Homo sapiens: one gene and its partners. The protein of the gene in region 3 purifies or fractionates together with the protein of the main gene of each other region. This does not show direct contact. Each region holds a gene or a part of one and is shown on either strand. Other genes may lie near its edges.

Evidence for each region.
Region 1: the proteins of ZNF331 (region 3) and NIN purify together in Homo sapiens (affinity purification with mass spectrometry; 2 studies listed by BioGRID and IntAct, with this or other methods). This does not show direct contact.
Region 2: the proteins of ZNF331 (region 3) and LRP4 purify together in Homo sapiens (affinity purification with mass spectrometry; 2 studies listed by BioGRID and IntAct, with this or other methods). This does not show direct contact.

What each region holds. Positions count from the first base shown.
Region 1 is NC_000014.9:50,754,563-50,758,314, reverse strand, and holds part of NIN (ninein), read left to right. Parts: coding exon 1-1,823; intron 1,824-3,447; coding exon 3,448-3,573; intron 3,574-3,682; coding exon 3,683-3,752. UniProt on the Homo sapiens protein: Centrosomal protein required in the positioning and anchorage of the microtubule minus-end in epithelial cells. May also act as a centrosome maturation factor.
Region 2 is NC_000011.10:46,911,864-46,915,615, reverse strand, and holds part of LRP4 (low-density lipoprotein receptor-related protein 4 precursor), read left to right. Parts: intron 1-3,752. UniProt on the Homo sapiens protein: Mediates SOST-dependent inhibition of bone formation. Functions as a specific facilitator of SOST-mediated inhibition of Wnt signaling.
Region 3 is NC_000019.10:53,576,108-53,579,859, forward strand, and holds part of ZNF331 (zinc finger protein 331), read left to right. Parts: intron 1-589; coding exon 590-1,845; 3' UTR 1,846-3,752. UniProt on the Homo sapiens protein: May be involved in transcriptional regulation. May play a role in spermatogenesis.

The DNA of each region.
Region 1 (3,752 bases), on a different chromosome or scaffold from region 3:
AACAGCATGGTCGTCGAGAGACAGCAGCTACTCCAAGACCTGGAAGACCTAAGAAATGTATCTGAAACCCAGCAAAGCCTGCTGTCTGACCAGATACTTGAGCTGAAGAGCAGTCACAAAAGGGAACTGAGGGAGCGTGAGGAGGTCCTGTGCCAGGCAGGGGCTTCGGAGCAGCTGGCCAGCCAGCGGCTGGAAAGACTAGAAATGGAACATGACCAGGAAAGGCAGGAAATGATGTCCAAGCTTCTAGCCATGGAGAACATTCACAAAGCGACCTGTGAGACAGCAGATCGAGAAAGAGCCGAGATGAGCACAGAAATCTCCAGACTTCAGAGTAAAATAAAGGAAATGCAGCAGGCAACATCTCCTCTCTCAATGCTTCAGAGTGGTTGCCAGGTGATAGGAGAGGAGGAGGTGGAAGGAGATGGAGCCCTGTCCCTGCTTCAGCAAGGGGAGCAGCTGTTGGAAGAAAATGGGGACGTCCTCTTAAGCCTGCAGAGAGCTCATGAACAGGCAGTGAAGGAAAATGTGAAAATGGCTACTGAAATTTCTAGATTGCAACAGAGGCTACAAAAGTTAGAGCCAGGGTTAGTAATGTCTTCTTGTTTGGATGAGCCAGCTACTGAGTTTTTTGGAAATACTGCGGAACAAACAGAGCAGTTTTTACAGCAAAACCGAACGAAGCAAGTAGAAGGTGTGACCAGGCGGCATGTCCTAAGTGACCTGGAAGATGATGAGGTCCGGGACCTGGGAAGTACAGGGACGAGCTCTGTTCAGAGACAGGAAGTCAAAATAGAGGAGTCTGAAGCTTCAGTAGAGGGTTTTTCTGAGCTTGAAAACAGTGAAGAGACCAGGACTGAATCCTGGGAGCTGAAGAATCAGATTAGTCAGCTTCAGGAACAGCTAATGATGTTATGTGCGGACTGTGATCGAGCTTCTGAAAAGAAACAGGACCTACTTTTTGATGTTTCTGTGCTAAAAAAGAAACTGAAGATGCTTGAGAGAATCCCTGAGGCTTCTCCCAAATATAAGCTGTTGTATGAAGATGTGAGCCGAGAAAATGACTGCCTTCAGGAAGAGCTGAGAATGATGGAGACACGCTACGATGAGGCACTAGAAAATAACAAAGAACTCACTGCAGAGGTTTTCAGGTTGCAGGATGAGCTGAAGAAAATGGAGGAAGTCACTGAAACATTCCTCAGCCTGGAAAAGAGTTACGATGAGGTCAAAATAGAAAATGAGGGGCTGAATGTTCTGGTTTTGAGACTTCAAGGCAAGATTGAGAAGCTTCAGGAAAGCGTGGTCCAGCGGTGTGACTGCTGCTTATGGGAAGCCAGTTTAGAGAACCTGGAAATCGAACCTGATGGAAATATACTCCAGCTCAATCAGACACTGGAAGAGTGTGTGCCCAGGGTTAGGAGTGTACATCATGTCATAGAGGAATGTAAGCAAGAAAACCAGTACCTTGAGGGGAACACACAGCTCTTGGAAAAAGTAAAAGCACATGAAATTGCCTGGTTACATGGAACAATTCAGACACATCAAGAAAGGCCAAGAGTACAGAATCAAGTTATACTGGAGGAAAACACTACTCTCCTAGGCTTTCAAGACAAACATTTTCAGCATCAGGCCACCATAGCAGAGTTAGAACTGGAGAAAACAAAGTTACAGGAGCTGACTAGGAAGTTGAAGGAGAGAGTCACTATTTTAGTTAAGCAAAAAGATGTACTTTCTCACGGAGAAAAGGAGGAAGAGCTGAAGGCAATGATGCATGACTTGCAGATCACGTGCAGTGAGATGCAGCAAAAAGTTGAACTTCTGAGGTAATGTATGTACCTTCTAGACGTCACGAATCCCACAGAGCACCTCACCAGATCTAACTTCCACTGCTTGCCGTGCCTAGAGAAACTAACCTAGTAGTCTTCACGAAGAGAGCAGTACTCTCTAGACTTCCTTCTGCTTCTGTGCCGTATTAACAAATAAAATAACCTTGTTTAGGAGGCATTCCCTTCCGCTGTAGCAAACAAGTGTTCATATGGGGTGTGAAAGTTCACAATGGCGAGTGTTTGCTGTTTAACCATGTGCATCCTCAATGTACCTCTTTAACTTTTTTCTAGCACTTATTTCATTTAGATGGATAGGGGATTTTTTTTTTTTATTTTGCTAAGTGTTACTTTCCTCATTTTGAGGAAACATGTTATATACAAATGAATGATTTTTTGTGTATTATTAACTTAGTAGATAAGAACTCACTTCTTATGCTAATATAGAAAAAATGTTCTGTCTTTATAGTTTTGTACTCATATCACTTGAAGCACATGCTGATAACCCATAAACAGTGCAAATGGTCAGGCACCATGGCTTAAATGCCTGCAATCTCAACTGTTTGGGAGGCCAAGGCAAGAGGATTTCTTGAGGCCAGGAGTTTCCAGGCAAGCCTAGGGAACATAGCAAGACTGCCTCTACAGAAAAATAAAAAAATGTTTGCTGGGCGTGGTGGTGCACACCTGTGGTCCCAGCTACTTGGGAGGCCGAGGTGGGAGGGTTGCTTGAGCTTGAGAGGTCAAAGCTGCAGTGAGCCATGATCATGCCATTGTACTCCAGACTGGGTGACAGAGTGAGACCCTGTCTCTTTTAAAAAAAAAAAAAAAAAAAAAAAAAAAAAAGAGACAAAACAAACAGTGGAAATTTATCTTAGAACATATAATTTGAGGAGCCTCCAGATTCTAATAAATATGCTTGAAAAGCAGAGATACAAGTAGAATTAATTTGAACCACTGCCCACTTGACATTGTAAAATATAATTGCATAGTCTTCTAGCAAATTTGGTTTTTCAAAAAAAAAAAAAACTTGTAAACTATTACAGGACGTCTGAAATGTCTCTGAAATAATTTAATTCTGAATGTAGTTTTTCCTCTTCTTCAGACCATTTTTAGTCCTAAAAATCAGAATATAATGAGATGAATAAAATCACAAAGTAAACAGTGTACATATTTCATTGTGGCCCTTTGATTTCAATAGAGAATTTTCTTTCCCTAGGTACCCAGGGGCCTAAAACTAAGCTAATATAGCTTTGTAACATGGCTTATGTGTATTCAGAACAGGTAGGACTTGAGACTGAGATAAATGAAGACATTTGCTCAAAGCAGTATGCTTGCCATTGAGAAAAATCAACAACCAGAATGAGCATTGAGTCTTGATTCATTTCTCCAGGCTTAAGGGTTTTTTAGCTACACTTCTCTAACATCTTTTAGTGAAATTCTTACTTCCCAAAAGAAATGTGTCAATATGTCATAACTCGATTTCCAAATACTAAGAGACTACTAATTTAGACTTTTCTTTTTAACTGGCATTGAATACTCATCCTTTTGGAAGTTACTAGAAAATATTTTCCAAAGATGCCAGATGACTGCCTTGTAACAATTTTTTTCAATCTCTGTGCTTCAGATATGAATCTGAAAAGCTTCAACAGGAAAATTCTATTTTGAGAAATGAAATTACTACTTTAAATGAAGAAGATAGCATTTCTAACCTGAAATTAGGGACATTAAATGGATCTCAGGAAGAAATGTGGTAAGACGTATACTTACATTTTCCTAAGACATTTTTGCAAAGACTAAAATTCTTTTACTTCAGCTTTTAAAGCCTAACCATTAAATTTTATTTTCATCATTCCTTTTAGGCAAAAAACGGAAACTGTAAAACAAGAAAATGCTGCAGTTCAGAAGATGGTTGAAAATTTAAAGAAACAG
Region 2 (3,752 bases), on a different chromosome or scaffold from region 3:
GCCAAGATCACTCCCCTGCACTCTAGCCGGGGCGACAGAGTGAGACTCTATCTTAATAAATAAATAAAGTTTAAGGTGCTTATTTGGATGCTGCTAGTCCTTGGGGCTTTTCCTAGAGCCTATTGGTTTGGACTCAGCCCACATAACTCTCCAACCTTAAAGATTTTGGAAGGAAACTTGATGGCTGGTAATAGCCCTGAGTGATTTTCATCCTGAAGTTTGAAGTAAGGGCATGGATGACAACCATTGGAAGAGTGGAAAGTGTGTTTGTTCTAGAGGTCTCATCCAGGTAAGGGAAATGTTAAAACTTCTGCCTAGGCGTGCTTGGGTAGATAGAAGGTTGTATCTGAAAATAAGTGCAGAGCAATTGAGCTGAGACTGGTCTCCTTTCCATCTCGCTGTTGTCGTGACCAGGGTTGTCATGGTGCTTGAGTGACCTTGTCCCTGATCTGTTGGGCTTGTGAAACATACTTGGCTTGTCACTGATTTTGGATTTCCTCTTCTGTACCCTGATGAATATCAGATAACATCTTTTGGACTGGCACGTGGTATTAAGAATGACAGGTGCAAGGGAACCAAGTCTGGCCATGTCTGATACAGAGCACGTTGGGTATGTCCATCTTCTGGGCCAGCAAAGAACACAGGAGGTCACAGAGGACACGGTGTTTTATAGCTCTTTGCTCACTCTTTCTACCGATTAACTGCCAGTCTTAACTGTTAGAAGGAAAATAGGAGAAATTGTTTATGTTGCTGCCCCTTTAAAGAAAAAAAAAATACTGGGGGTTCCTGAATAGGAACAGAATTTCAGGGACTACTTTAAGAAGTAATCTTGTCTTTTTTATGATTGGGTAAGATTACGAGACAGTCTGTGCCCTTGGTTGACTAGGTCTGTTAGCCTGTTCCAGCCATGGTCTCTCTACATTCCTTGATGCAGCTTAGCCACGAGTTTTGTCACAGTTGCCTGGACATGGGGCATCTGGGCCCCAGACTGTGTCTGGACTGCCATCTCATCTTCAGCAGCGGAAGCCCTCCTCCCCTCCTCAGCCTGTGAGGATTCAGTGTCCCAGGGAAGACTCAGTGCTGACTGGTTAGCTGGCAGAGCCTGAGTTTGACCTTATAAATAGTTCTGATGACTGCATGGGCTTGTCACTCTCACTCCAGCTTAGAGCTGGCAGGAATGAGTTCCTCGTACAATCGGGAGCATTCCTCAAACTAGGCTCCACACCCATTCACTTGTTCATTCATTCAGCAAACACACATATGTCAAGCATTAATATAATCACTGTATACGAAGCTCAGCAATTAAGAAGCACCCACAGACCTGGGTTTGAATCTTGGCTCTGGCAATTCTTGGTGACCCTGTGCAAAATCTCCCTGAACCTCAGGGTTGTTACCTGCAAAGGCGGGTAGGGTAGGGGAAGGGAAGTAGTAATAGATTATCACATAGGAATATCATAAAATTTACCTGAGATAATAGCATGTTCAAACTATGCAGCACAGAGCTTGGCAACTACTGTGTTACTGTAGAGCTTGATAAAAGTTAGCTGTAAGCAAAGTCACCTAAGTGGATCCGAGATGATTCTTGGCTTTAGAACATGGGAGCCAGGTAAATAATTATGCTACCGTGTTCTGTGCTAAAATTGAGACTTGGTCCTTCATTCATTGCAGCTGGTCTTTTGCTTGTCTCTTTTAAAGATCTGCCCCTTCTTTCTCCCCTTGAAAACGTGATAGAACCGAAGCATAGTTCCCACTTGTGCCCACTCCTAGAAAAGAAGTCTGCTAAGCTATAACATCAGTCTAGGGGAACTCATGTCGCCTTAGTTCTCTTGAGAGAGGTCTGGGGAAATGGAGCTTTTCCTCTGAGAGTTTCCCTTCTTAAGTGGTCAGGGATGCAGCCTAGCAACTTCTCCTGCTAAGATTCCTGTGACATGGGGTGAGAGGGGCTGGCCAGGGACTCTTGTAGCTGGAACAGTTTAGAATTCCAAGCCCTCCCTCCCATTGGCCTGAGAAAGGAGTCAGGCTCCAGAGCTCATAAGGTAGTAATTGCCCCAATTTGGGAGCTGGGCTGTTGTGGAGCCTTCGCAGCTACCATTTTCAATCAGGAAGCCTGTCAGCTTGCAGGCCTAATTGATGTGGGTCTCCAGCCCCGAATAGCCCCCAACCCCTAGTTCCTCCACCTCAAAGTTTGACCCCTGTTGTCTCTTTTGTTTCTTCTTTTTAAGTTGGTGCCAGTGATGTGATTTTTGGGAGCTGCGGAAAGTTGACCGTAACCAAGAGCAGCTGTTAAAAAGAGCCAATTCTCTAGCTTCCTGACGGTTGTCTGCCTCCATTTTCTGTTGTGCGTTTTTGATTTAGCAAGAAGCAAACATCCTAGGTGCCCTTGGGCGCCTCTTACGCCCATCCAAGCAGACTTCATTCTTTCACTGCTCGTAGGCATTCCCATTCTTGCTCACAGATGAGCGGACTGGCTGTTAGCGCTCCCTGACACCCTGTTTCCCCATGCGGAATAGGACTCCCCCATCATTCAGGTTCGAATGAGGGGAGGGGCGCTGTCTGGGACCCAACTGGGGATAGCCTGGCTGGGACTTGCTGCAAGCCCTGACTTGGCCTATGGGAGCTCCCCCTCACCTCTATGCACAGCTGAGGATCAGAGCGGCAAGCAGAGCCGGAAACAAAAGACTGGGAGCAAACCTCCCATCTAGCTGAGAGGCAGTGACACAGAGGTGCTGCTGCATAATTTATCACCGGAGGTTTTCTGGAGCCGGGAAGCTCCTGGCTCCAGGCAGTGCCTTTTTGCGGGAGAGGGACCCTCCCTCTGTCTGGGTGTAGGGCAGAGCAGGTACAGAGAAGGGTATCCAGAGAGACACCTGATTAGCATGTGAAATAAAGAAGCTGCAAGGTTGTAAGTGCCTCCAGGGATCTCTCCAAGCTCGGCAGCTCCACTTCCTGTCACGCCTTGGGGGAGGTGGGGAGGGGTAGTGGCCTGCAACCACGCGCTGGCATGGATGAGGACAAGAGACAGCTTCTCTGTTGAGTTGACTGTAGCCTCCTTCTAACCAAGTGGAGAGGCCAGGTTATGGCATCCACAAGCCTAGCAAATAGGAAAGGGGAGCCCCAGGTTTTCCACCCTCCTTCCACGGGCAGTTTAAACAATAAGTTTCAACTACAGGCTCCCAGAGCCAATAAAAGCCAACAACTCTACAATGTATCTTCCCCAAATGAGAATTTCTGCTCTTCTAGGAATGATCTCCTCCAATGACAATTTTTGCAAATTGTGGGATATGTGGATTTACAAATTGGGATATGTGGTTTAAAAAATCCAAATGTATTTCTGGAGCAGTTAGCATTTTTGAGAGCTTTGCTGTGTCCCTGGTACTGTGATAAGCATTTAGTATATGATATCATATTTATTCCTCACAATATCCTTATGAGGTAGGTAACATTAGATTCCCGTCTTACATTGGCCAGGTGCGATGGCTAACGCCTGTAATCCCAGCACTTTGGGAGGCTGGGGTGGGTGGATCACTTGACGTCAGGAGTTCGAGACCAACCTGGCCAACATGGTGAAACCCCATGTCTACTAAAAATACAAAAATTAGCTGACGTGGTGGCACATGCCTATAGTCTCAGCTACTCAGGAGGCTGAGGCTGAGGCTGAGGTGGGAGAATCGCTTGAACCTGGGAGGCAGAGGTTGCAGCGAGCCAAGACTGTGCCACTGCACTCCAGGCTGAGCGACAGAGCGAGACTCCGT
Region 3 (3,752 bases):
CCGAGTAGCTGGGATTACAGTCATGCGCCACCATGTCCGGCTAATTTTGTATTTTTAGTAGAGACAAGGTTTCTCCATGTTGGTCAAGCTGGTCTCGGACTCCCGACCTCAGGTGATCTGCCTGCCTTGGCCTCCCAAAGTGCTGGGATTACAGGCGTGATGAGCCACCACTCCCGGCCCTTTACCAGTTACTTTTAATAATACTACTGACATATACGTGTATCAGTTTCAGAATGCTTTACACACAGCCATCCAACTGCATATTGTTTTGTTACAGTACTTCTATATTTGGTTTTCCAAGTATATCATCACATCATCTACAAATACTTGTTTTCATCTTCAAAATAGGAAATAATAGGACTAATTGTCGGGACCTTTTTCATGTCTGACTTTAAAATAGATGTCTCCAATGAATTCTCAGTTAGTATTGTACCAGAAGTAGAATCTACATTTTAACAAGAGCCCTGGGTGATTCACATTTATTCTACTGGATAATTTTTATTTCTATTAGACGAGTTTTTGGTTTGTGGTTAGGTTCGTTTGTACTTGTGTCCCTCTAAAGGAAAGAAAATATGTTCTTTTTTCCCAGATTTGGAGTCAGCATATGAAAATAAGAGTTTACCTACAGAAAAAAACATTCATGAAATAAGGGCTTCCAAAAGGAATTCAGATAGAAGAAGTAAATCCCTTGGCCGTAACTGGATATGTGAAGGTACGCTTGAAAGACCACAGCGCTCCAGAGGGAGGTATGTCAATCAGATGATCATCAATTATGTCAAAAGACCTGCTACTAGAGAAGGCACCCCTCCTAGAACACATCAGAGACATCATAAGGAGAATTCCTTTGAATGTAAGGACTGTGGGAAGGCCTTTAGTCGTGGCTATCAACTTAGTCAACATCAGAAAATCCATACTGGTGAGAAACCTTATGAATGTAAAGAATGTAAGAAGGCCTTCCGTTGGGGCAATCAGCTTACTCAACATCAAAAAATTCATACTGGGGAGAAGCCCTACGAATGTAAAGACTGTGGGAAGGCTTTTCGATGGGGCTCAAGCCTCGTTATTCATAAGAGGATTCATACTGGTGAAAAACCCTATGAATGTAAAGACTGTGGAAAGGCCTTTCGGCGTGGTGATGAGCTCACTCAGCACCAGAGATTCCACACTGGGGAGAAAGACTACGAATGCAAAGACTGTGGGAAGACCTTTAGCCGTGTGTATAAACTTATTCAGCACAAGAGAATTCATAGTGGGGAGAAGCCTTACGAGTGTAAAGACTGTGGGAAGGCTTTTATTTGTGGTTCAAGCCTCATTCAGCATAAAAGAATTCACACAGGTGAGAAACCCTATGAATGTCAAGAATGTGGGAAGGCCTTTACTCGAGTCAATTACCTTACTCAGCATCAGAAGATCCACACCGGTGAGAAGCCTCACGAATGTAAGGAGTGTGGGAAGGCCTTTCGCTGGGGTTCGAGCCTCGTTAAGCACGAGAGGATACATACGGGCGAGAAGCCGTACAAGTGCACAGAATGTGGGAAGGCCTTCAATTGTGGCTATCACCTCACTCAGCACGAGAGAATCCACACAGGCGAAACCCCGTATAAATGTAAGGAGTGTGGGAAGGCTTTCATTTATGGATCGAGCCTCGTGAAACATGAGAGAATTCATACCGGGGTGAAACCCTATGGGTGTACAGAATGTGGGAAGAGCTTTAGTCACGGCCATCAGCTTACACAACATCAGAAAACGCACAGTGGGGCGAAATCCTACGAATGTAAGGAGTGCGGGAAGGCATGTAACCACCTAAACCATCTCCGAGAACATCAGAGGATCCACAACAGTTGAAGAGCCTTTTGAACGCAGTAGCCCGCTCGTATCTATGGTTTCGCTTTCCACAGTTTGTTACCTGCAGTCAACTGCAGTTCAAAAATATTAAATGGAAAATTCCAGAAATAAAGAATTTTAAGTCTCAAATGGTGTGCCCTTCTGAGTAGCGTGATGAAATCTCTCGCTGTCCGGCTCCAGCCGGCCGGGGATGTGAGTCATCCCTTGGTCCAGCACATCCACGCTGTATACGCCACCCACCCTGCTAGTGACTTAGTAGCCGTCTTGGTGATCAGATCAACTATCCCAGCATCACAGTGCCTGTGCCCAAGCAGTCCTCACTTTGCTTAACAGTGGCCCCAGAGAGCAGGAGTAGTGATGCTGGTGATTCGGATATGCCAAAGAGAAGCCACAAAGTGCTTCCTTTTAAATGAAAAGGTGAAAGTTCTCAACTTAAAAAAGAAAAGAAAAAAATCATATACTGAGGTTGCTAAGATCTACATGACAATAAGATATTTTGGGAGAGAGATACGTTCACATAATTTTATTACATATATTGTTACAATTGTTCTATTTTGTTAGTTACTGTTGGTAATCTCTTACTGTGCCTAATTTATAAATTAAACTTTAGATATGTATGTACAGGAAAAAATGTAGTATATAGTATCGTATATATGTACAGGAAAAAAACGTACTATCTGTGGTTTCAGGTGTCCACTGCGGGTCTTCAAACGTACCCCCCTCAGGTGAGAGGGGACTGCTGTACAAAGAATATAGGAAGGCCTCTAGACTACATCCATTCCTTCCTCAACAGGAGGAAAATTCCTGGTACAGTTTAACGTAAGGCTTCACTGATCACTGTTGTTTTTGTTTTTGTTTTTGTTTTTTTGAGACAGAGTCTCACTCTTGCCCAGGCTGGAGTGCAGTGGCACGGTCTTGGCTCACTGCAACCTCCACCTCCCAGGTTCCAGCAATTCTCCTGCCTCAGCCTCCCCAGTAGCTGGGATTACAGACATGCACCACCACACCTGGCTAATTTTTGTATTTTTAGTAGAGACAGTTTTCACCATGTTGTCCAGGCTGGTCTCAACTCCTGACCTCAGGTGATCCACCCACCTTGCCCTCCCAAAGTGCTAGGATTACAGGCGTGAGCCACTGCACCTAGCCCACTGATCACTCTTCTGCTTACAGAATATCAGAAGTCATTCTAGAGGCAAATTTGAAGAGTGGAAAAATCACTTTTTCTGAATGATCTTGTTTTTGGTGTAGATGTTTTTATTGTGTGGGTTAGTTTAATGAATACATAAAGACTACCAGTACCATTCTGTCTTTACTCCGTGGCATCTGTGGAATAACCCTGCTAATGTAACACGTGAGAAAGCCTTTGGTCATGCCACCCACTCTACCAGTTGTCCCCACCATCCCCCGCCCTCCTCCCTGTGAGACACTGGGCCAAAGGCTCACTACCCCTGTGCGTTGTCCAGCACACAGACACTATGTGCATTATTTGTACATAAGGATAATCACATCTACCTGAGACTGCTATCATGGAAATTAAATGTTTGGTACATGTAAAGTCTTTGAAAGTGTAACTGGAATATTGTGTAATTTTAATAAATAATAACTATTGTTGTTTTTATGATCATTACTACCATTTGTGTTGCCATTAGTGAATTTTTACAAGAAAACTCCCTGTGGGTGCAATGAGTCTGGAAAAGACCATTGAGTCTTCTAGAAGAAAACATTAAGAGATTATTGGCACAGCCGTGGGTTACGCAATGATTTCTTAGTACACAAAACACAGCAAACATAAAAAGTTGTTACACTTCATCAAAAGTACAAAGTTCTGTTCATCAAATGATGCTGTTAAGATAGGGAAAAGACAAGAAACAGGACTGGAAGAAGATGTTTGCTCTAAGGTACACCTG